2 linked regions of the Homo sapiens genome follow. The protein of the gene in region 1 purifies or fractionates together with the protein of each later gene. This does not show direct contact. Each region holds a gene or a part of one and is shown on either strand. Other genes may lie near its edges.

Region 1 (3,811 bases):
GTGGTGTTAACAGGCCTGAGATGGCCACAGACTCACCGTGGGCCTGGAATACTCACGATGGGGTGGCTAAAGGTGTCTGTGACCATGACTGCTGGGGTGGGCACTGCTGTCTTTTGCTGCTGTGACTCCCTTTTTCTTGTTCTACAAAATTGGTCACTTTCTCCATTTGCGAATAAAGGAGTTGAGCCTGGAGGTCTTTAAGCACCTCTCCAACTGTAACATTGCACTTCTTGTTTTGTTTTAGGGTTTTTTGGTCCCAGGGAACCTCGTTTTCAGAGCAGTGGCTCACGCAGATCCTGAGCCCAGTTAATGGTCATACCTTTCCCTGAGTTTATGTTCATTCTATCCTCTGAGATTATCTTTGAAGTCTCATTACATAGATGTCTGTAAAATCCTTCAAGCTATGGACAGCCAAGGTCAGAGGCACATTTTCTCATAAGTGGCTGTTTCTAAATTCATAGGTTTGAGATACATAAAGATAAACCAGGTTCCTTTATGTCAATTTCCTTCCAGTTCTGCCCTCTGAGGACCCTGCCCTTTCCCAAAAGGGGTATCTTAAGAAGGAAAATATGGCTGCTCTTTGCCGGACAGCAGAGTCCCAGGTGAGTTGGGGATTTTCCTCTCTTCTTGGAAATTTTATTTTAATTGAGTTGGGGATTTTCCTCTCTTCTCAGAAATCTTATTTTAATTCCTGAAGCAAATTTTTTTTCTCTTAGCATGAAGCTTGTCAACCACATTAGCCACAGCAGTTTGAAAGGAAAGGATCAAGCAGGTGGGATGGACTGCCAATGAGATGGTGTTTGCGTGTTCCTCAGTTGTATGGCAGTAGCAGTGAAGGTCAGGAGGCTTGGTAGCCTCGCCCATCAGTTGGCAGTGTAGAGAAAGGATGGTAGGGGCAGGATGGGAATGAGGCCTCTTTAGCAGATAATTGAGGAGCGTGACTCCTAGAACATGGTTGGGTAAGAATCAAGCTTCTTTTTGTTCACTTGAGACATTTGGCATAGATATGCAAAGGCACGTGAGGCATTTCTTGCTTGCATCTGCTTAGAATATTTTGGGGAGAAAAGATGTACACAAATCTGTGTGGCACAAACCAGCAGATTTATTATTATTAAATAGGGCCTTATTATTAAGGGCCTACTCAATATAAAGTGTCTTAGGGAAAATGCTGTATGGACTTGGAGGAGCAGGAGCAAATGTGTCTGGCTGAGAGAGATTTAGGAAGGTTTTATTCATTCAACTAGCATTTTAAAGTCCTTTTAAGCAGCTCCTAGGCTAATGAAAGTAGTGAGATTTGATGTGGGCCCTGAAAGCTGAGTAAATTCTTGAAAGATTTATAGAAAGTTAGTGACATAAATGACTTAGAATCAAAGCAAGATACTGATTCCTCTGGCACAGGAAAAAAGTCAGTACATTGAAATCACAGAGGTGTTGTTCCACAAAAACTTAAAGGCTTCTTATACTCAAAGTTCTTTCCTAGATATAATTCTCAAGCTTGGCTTATTTCTTTTTTTCTTTTTTTTTTTTTTTGAGACATAGTCTCGCTCTCTCGCCCAGGCTGGAGTGCAGTGGCGCGATCTCAGCTCACTGCAAGCTCCGCCTCCCAGGTTCACTCCATTCTCCTGCCTCAGCCTCCCGAGTAGCTGGGACTACAGGCACCCGCCACCGCGCCCGGCTAATTTTTTGTATTTTTAGTAGAGACAGGGTTTCACCGTGTTAGCCAGGATGGTCTCGATCTCCTGACCTTGTGATCTGCCCGCCTCGGCCTCCCAAAGTGCTGGGATTACAGGCGTGAGCCACCACGCCCGGCCAGCTTGGCCTATTTCTTAGTTTCTTACTTACCATGTGTCTCTCTCAACTTAACTGAAGATAACCTTAAGGCCGGCTAAACAATAGGCTTGGGTGGGAAGGCCACATCCTTAATCTGACATTTTTTTTACAGGGCTAAATCACTTTGTTTAGTTAACAGGTGTAATGGGCCTTTATTGCTCAAAGCTCTTGTTAGACTTACTTCCCACTGTATGAGATCTAGAAACAGTTTGCTTTTCCAACCACGTGAGGCCTCAGATTTCTGCACTCTATTCTCTTTTGTTTTGGCTTGAAAATTGACACATTGTTTCCTGAACTTAACTCATTCTTTGTTCGCCAGACATATCCAGGAGCATTCTACACAAAGAGCGTTCTGGTGCTTTCCAACCTGTTCTAGAGCCACAGGCCCAGTGAGCATTTGCCCTGGCCTCATAGTTGCTAATTAGTTTGCCAGTGTATATTAAGAGTCTGCATCTGTTGGCTGGATGCGGTGGCTCATGCCTGTAATCCCAGCACTTTGGGAGGCCGAGGTGGGCGGATCACCTGAGGTCAGGAGTCTGTGACCAGCCTGGACAACATGGTGAGATCCCGTTTCTACTAAAAATACAAAAAAAAGTAGCTGGGCGTGGTGGCTCACACCTGTAGTCCCAGCTACTCAAGAGGCTGAGGCAGGAGAATCGCTTAAACATGGGAGATGGAGGTTGCGGTAAGCCGAGAGCATCGTGGCCACTGCACTCCAGCAACAGAGTGAGACTCCGTCTCAAAAAAAAAAAAAAAAAGGAGAGTCTGCATTTCTCCAGTCGTAAATATTCTTTTCTTTGAAGCTTGCCACCTGACTGTCAATCCAATGCCACCTGTGTATTTGAACTTTTTATTATGATATCTCCCACTTGAAGGTGCTGATTTCTGAATTAGTTTGGGTTGGCTTACTAATAACTGTTGTAACCAATAGACCCAAAATATATATGGCCTTAATACAATAGAAGTGTATTGTTTGCTGTCATAGCCATGTGAGTGGGTATATAGATTGATAGGATGGCCATTCAGGGACCTGAGCTACCTGAAGCTCTAGCCTCTTTACCATATGGCTTCCAAACTCACTCTGGGGCTCATGGCCCTACCAGCCAGTCAGAAGGGGAAAACAGCATGGAGGAACATACGTGAGTCAGGCCTGGAAAGGGCGCACATCACTCCTGCTTGCATTCCATTGGTTAGGATCTCATGGCCAGGTCTAACTACAGGAGGTTGGGAAATGTTTGTATACCTAGAAAGGAGAGGAGGAGGCATATTTTCATGGACAGTTAGCAGCTCGTAGCACTGTTCTCAAACATTTAGGTTATTTAGAACGATTTTGCTATTTTTCTATTGTAAGGTATAAATAGATGTGATTCTTTGTTTATAACTCTCCATATTTCTGATAGTTTTCTTTTTTTTTTTTTGAGACACAGTCTCGTTCTGTTGCCCAGGCTGGAGTGCAATGGCGTGATCTCGGCTCACTGCAAGCTTCGCCTCCCGGGTTCACGCCATTCTCCTGCTTCAGCCTCCCGAATAGCTGGGACTACAGGCGCCCACCACCATGCCTGGCTAATTTTTTTTGTATTTATAGTAGAGATGGGGTTTCACCATGTTAGCCAGGATGGTCTCGATCTCCTGACCTCGTGATCTGCCCACCTCGGCCTCCCAAAGTGCTGGGATTACAGGCGTGAGCCACTGCACCCAGCCGATAGTTTTCTTATAATTGAGTTCTGTATATAAAATTACTGTAAAACAAAACTATCAAATTATGTCAGAGGGGTATACACATTTTAAGATTTTAAGATTCTTTAATATACGAGTCAATAAAATCTTGTCTTTGACACTGTGAACATAGTTTAATCTATTTCCTCTCCATCCCATCAGTCTCCCCTAAGTATGCCTCATGTAACTTTTTCTTCAGAACCCCATGCAGGTGTTTCAGGGCTTTATGTCATTCAAGGATGTGGCTGTGAACTTCACTAGGAAG
Region 2 (4,274 bases), on another chromosome or scaffold:
TCATCTTTCTATACTTAAGCTTTCTCATTTGTAAGTTGAAAATAATACCAAACTCCAGGGTTTTGTGAGGATAAAGTGTTTGGCACAATGTAAAGCACAGAATAAATGCTCAACACACATGAATACTGCCATAAACATTACTTCGCCTTCCTGCAGACCAACTCCGACTCTGCATGAAACAGAAAATCAGAACATTTATTTGGTACTAATCAAATTTCTTTTCATAATCTTTTACGGATAGACAATACCATTGTATCCCCATTTTAAGAGGCAGTCTTTCAGTCTTTTCAAAGCATAACTTTGAAGCCAGAATTGCCTCGGTTAGATTTCTTCTTATTATTATTATGATGATTTGAGACGGAGTCTCGCTCTTGTTGCCCAGGCTGGAATGCAATGGCACTAACTCCGCTCACCCGAACTCGGCTTACAGCAACCTCCGCCTCCCGGGTTCGAGCGATTCTCCTGCCTCAGCCTCCGAAGTAGCTAGGATTACAGGCATGCACCACCACGCCCGGCTAATTTTGTATTTTTAGTAGAGACGGGGTTTCTTCATGTTGGTCAGGCTGGTCTGGAACTCCTGACCTCAGGTGATCTGCCCGCCTCGGCCTCCCAAAGTGCTGGGATTACAGGCATGAGCCACGGTGCCCGGCTCTTCTTATACTTATTATTTGCTTGCCTTAGACAAGTAACTTCACCTCTCCAAGCCTGCATTCTAATGCAAAACGAACACCAATACCTATTTTATGAATTATTGTAATAATTAAACGAGGTAATACCATACCTGAAGTATCTTTAATGCAGCAGATGTCAAAAGTGGTAGCCGCAATTATTTTTATTTTGTAAGGGAGGATTAAACACATTTAAATAGGACATCACAGGAGCGGAGCTGGATCCCAGGTCAGCCTGATTCCTAGGCCGGCGTTCCTTATTGATTACAACATAAGGCAAACAAGTCGTCTTTGGAGAGAGAGGTTGGGGAGAGAAGAATGTTTAATTTCTCCATGCCCTTCAATGACATGTATAACCTTCACTGTTGACCATTTGGCCAGATTGTTGAATTATGTTTTGCTCTCTGGCAACTTGGGGTGTGGAACGTACAATAAAAACGCCTTCACACTAATAACCTCCAGGCCTGTCCCCAGGATTCTACAGCATGAGCTTTGTGGGTAAAGAGAGCTCACCAAATTCAGCCTCCAGCAGCACACACAGCTCAGTAGCAGCGCCCCGCCCAGATGTTTATATTTTCCTCCATCGGCCCCGCCCCCCGACCATGAGGGGCTCTAGCCACGCCCCCAAGCTCAAGTTTCTGGGGCCGGACTAGCCCAGCGCGTCTGCCTACCCATAGGGATTCCCTCTCCAGCCAATCCAGTCAGAGCAGCGGAGCTGCCCCGAACAAAGATGGCGCGGGAAGCGTCTGTGAGGGCAGACTGATCCGAGCACCCAAACCCTCGGCGGACAGCGGAGCCAGTGGTAGCCGCACGGCCCTAAAACCATGGAGGAGGGCGGCAGCACTGGCAGTGCTGGCAGTGACAGCAGCACCAGCGGGAGTGGCGGGGCGCAGCAAAGGGAGCTGGAGCGCATGGCTGAGGTCTTGGTCACCGGGGAACAGCTACGGTAAGGCAAGAGACACAGCGGGTGAGCTCACGATGGCACTGCCAACGCGTGCCCGCTGCAGTCCTGCGCGCACGCGCTCCCTGGCTCGTGGCTTGCGACTCGCGTGGGGCGCCGGAACGGCTGCGGGCGCGTGGATGGTCCTCGGTGCGCCCGCGCTTAGCTGCTGCAGCCTCGGTCCCTGAGGACTCGCTCGCCAAGCGGGGCTGCCTGGCAGAAGCCGACGAGCGGGTGGTGCGCGCTGCGCCCTAGCCTGGCTGCTGCAGTCCTGTGCCGGGCAAAGTCCCTGCCACCCACCGCGCTGTCCGTCTTCCCGTGTACCTGGACGCCGCCAGGCCTCCCGGCTGACAGCCTGCGCCTCATCCGCGAAGAGAGCAAGAGGGGTCGCTGTGGGGTCCCGAGGCGACCCCAGCCCCTCTACTCCTTGATAAAAGGAGCAAGACCAACGATAGTCTTCACTAGGTTTTCCTTTTTGCTGACAAGTCTTCCTTCACTCCCCTGAGCCTCGGTGTTTTACATCTGTAAAACAGGGCTGATTCAAGGGCTTTTTGTGAGGTTAAACTGAGAGAGCATTTCTGAAACCCTGCACCTATCAGTTAATTGGCACATCGTCCTCAATCATTTGGGTCCGCAAGGGGGCGTGGAGGCACCTTGTCGGGCTGCCTTGAGGCTGTGCCAACTCCCCGGGCTCGCACGTTTTGGGCAGCAGGATCCATGGGGACCCTGGCTCCTGCAAGAATTAAGACTTGCGGCGTCTCACGGAACTTGGGAACAAGGACGACCCCCAGAATCCCCCTTGCCATTCCCATCCCTGTATGGTCCTTCCTCTAGGGCTGTTTGGGAATAGTACTTATGGTCTAACTGGTTCTGCAGCTGCCCTTCGTGTGGTTATAAATCAGTTTGCCAGGAAAAAGAAAACCCAGCTCTGCAGCGTTTGAGCCACAACTTGTACGCGGGCCCCTGTTACTTCTAGTTCTTAGCCTGAATTCCCCAGCTTGTTTTGGTTTCTAAATGTCTGTGTTTCAGGACCTGAAAGAGTGTCTTGCAAAGGTCTCTGAAGGAGACCAATATTGGAAGTCAGAATTAACTGATTTTTAATGTTACAAAAGGCAAATTGCACCTATCGATTCTTTGTTGATTTTTAAAAATACGTGGTCAGAATTAAAGGGAATAAAAACTTTTTTTCCTTCATCAAAAGTACTTTCTAATGAAACCTGTCACGCGGTGCCCGTGTGAAGAGACCACCGAACAAGTTTTGTGTGAGCAATAAAGCTTTTTAATCACCTGGGTGCAGGTGGACTGAGTCTAAAAACGGAGTCAGCAAAGGGAGATGGGGAAGGGGTTGTTTTATAGGAGTTGGGTAGATGATGGATAGTGGTGTAAGTTTGTGAGGTGCAGTCCAAGAAGGCGGGGGTGACTTCATAAAGCCCTGTTGTAAAGAGTAGAGTAAGGAAGAAGAGACCTGATATCCCTTGGAGAATAAATGTTGAAGGAGCAGGAGGGTGTCTTGCTGAGAAGATTCAAAGGAGAGGCTACAAAGTAGAAGGTCATCAATATATTGAATAAGGTGAGAAGCAGAGGGGTAGAAAGAAAGTAAATCATGAGAAAGGGCTTGGCTGAAGTAATGAGGGCTGTTCCTGAAGACTTGCGGCAGTACAGCCCAGGTAAGCTGCTGGGACTGATGGGTGTCAGGGTCAGTCCAGGTAAAAGCAAAGAGAGGCTGGGACGAGGGGTGCAGGGGAATAGTGAAAAAGGCATCTTTAAGATCAAGAATGGAATAGTGAGTTGTGGAGGAAGGTATTGAGGACAAAAGAGTGTACAGGTTTGGCACCACAGGGTGGATAGGCAAAACAATTTGGTTGATAAGGTGCAGAACCTGAACTAACCTGTAAGACTTGTCCAGTTTTGGGACAGGTAAAATGGGGGAATTGTAAGGAGAGTTTGTAGGCTTTAGAAGCCCAAGCTGTAGCAGGCGAGTGATAACAGGCTTCAGTCCCTTTAAAGCCTACTGTGGGAAAGAAAGTTTAATTTCTCTGCTCTTCATTACTGGGCCATCTTTTTAAAAGTCTTCTGTTGGATAGGGTTACTTATTTTTCATTTATTTTACAAATATTAAATTGCATGATGGCTCTTTTTGTCCAGCAAGTACTTTTTCCTTCAAGATGCAGTTTAAATGCCTCTTCCTTGCAGTCCCCAGAGCACTTGTTATTCCCCACTTTTCTAGCGCCTCTCTGCACTGCAGCAGTTTTGAGAGCCATCCTTGTCATGCAGGAATTAGACCTGGGTTTGAATGACTGCTCCACCATTATGTAGGCAAGTGTCAGCATTAAGTTGTTTCAAGGAAGACTTTAAGCTAGACTGAATCTTGGCTTTGCTACTTACTAGTGTGGGACCTTGGACAAGTGATTATGCCCGTAATCCTGGCCCTTTGGGAGACCAAGGCAGGCGGATCCCTTGAGGTCTGGAGTTCAAGACCAGCCTGACCAACATGGTGAAACCTCATCTCTACTAAAAATACAAGAATTAGCCGGGTGTGGTGGTGCATGCTTGTAATCCTAGCTACTTGGGAGGCTGAGGTGAGAGGATTGCTTGAACCTGGGAGGCAGAGGTTGCAGTGAGCCAAGACAGTGCCACTGCACTCCAGCCTGGGCAACAGAGTGAGC

Evidence for each region.
Region 2: the proteins of TRIM16 (region 1) and DEPTOR purify together in Homo sapiens (affinity purification with western blotting, with the first as the bait; one study listed by BioGRID). This does not show direct contact.

What each region holds. Positions count from the first base shown.
Region 1 is NC_000017.11:15,677,656-15,681,466, reverse strand, and holds part of TRIM16 (tripartite motif-containing protein 16), read left to right. Parts: intron 1-513; coding exon of another isoform or gene 514-602; intron 603-3,745; 5' UTR 3,746-3,811.
Region 2 is NC_000008.11:119,872,355-119,876,628, forward strand, and holds the start of DEPTOR (DEP domain-containing mTOR-interacting protein), read left to right. Parts: upstream 1-1,367; 5' UTR 1,368-1,492; coding exon 1,493-1,614; intron 1,615-4,274. UniProt on the Homo sapiens protein: Negative regulator of the mTORC1 and mTORC2 complexes: inhibits the protein kinase activity of MTOR, thereby inactivating both complexes. DEPTOR inhibits mTORC1 and mTORC2 to induce autophagy.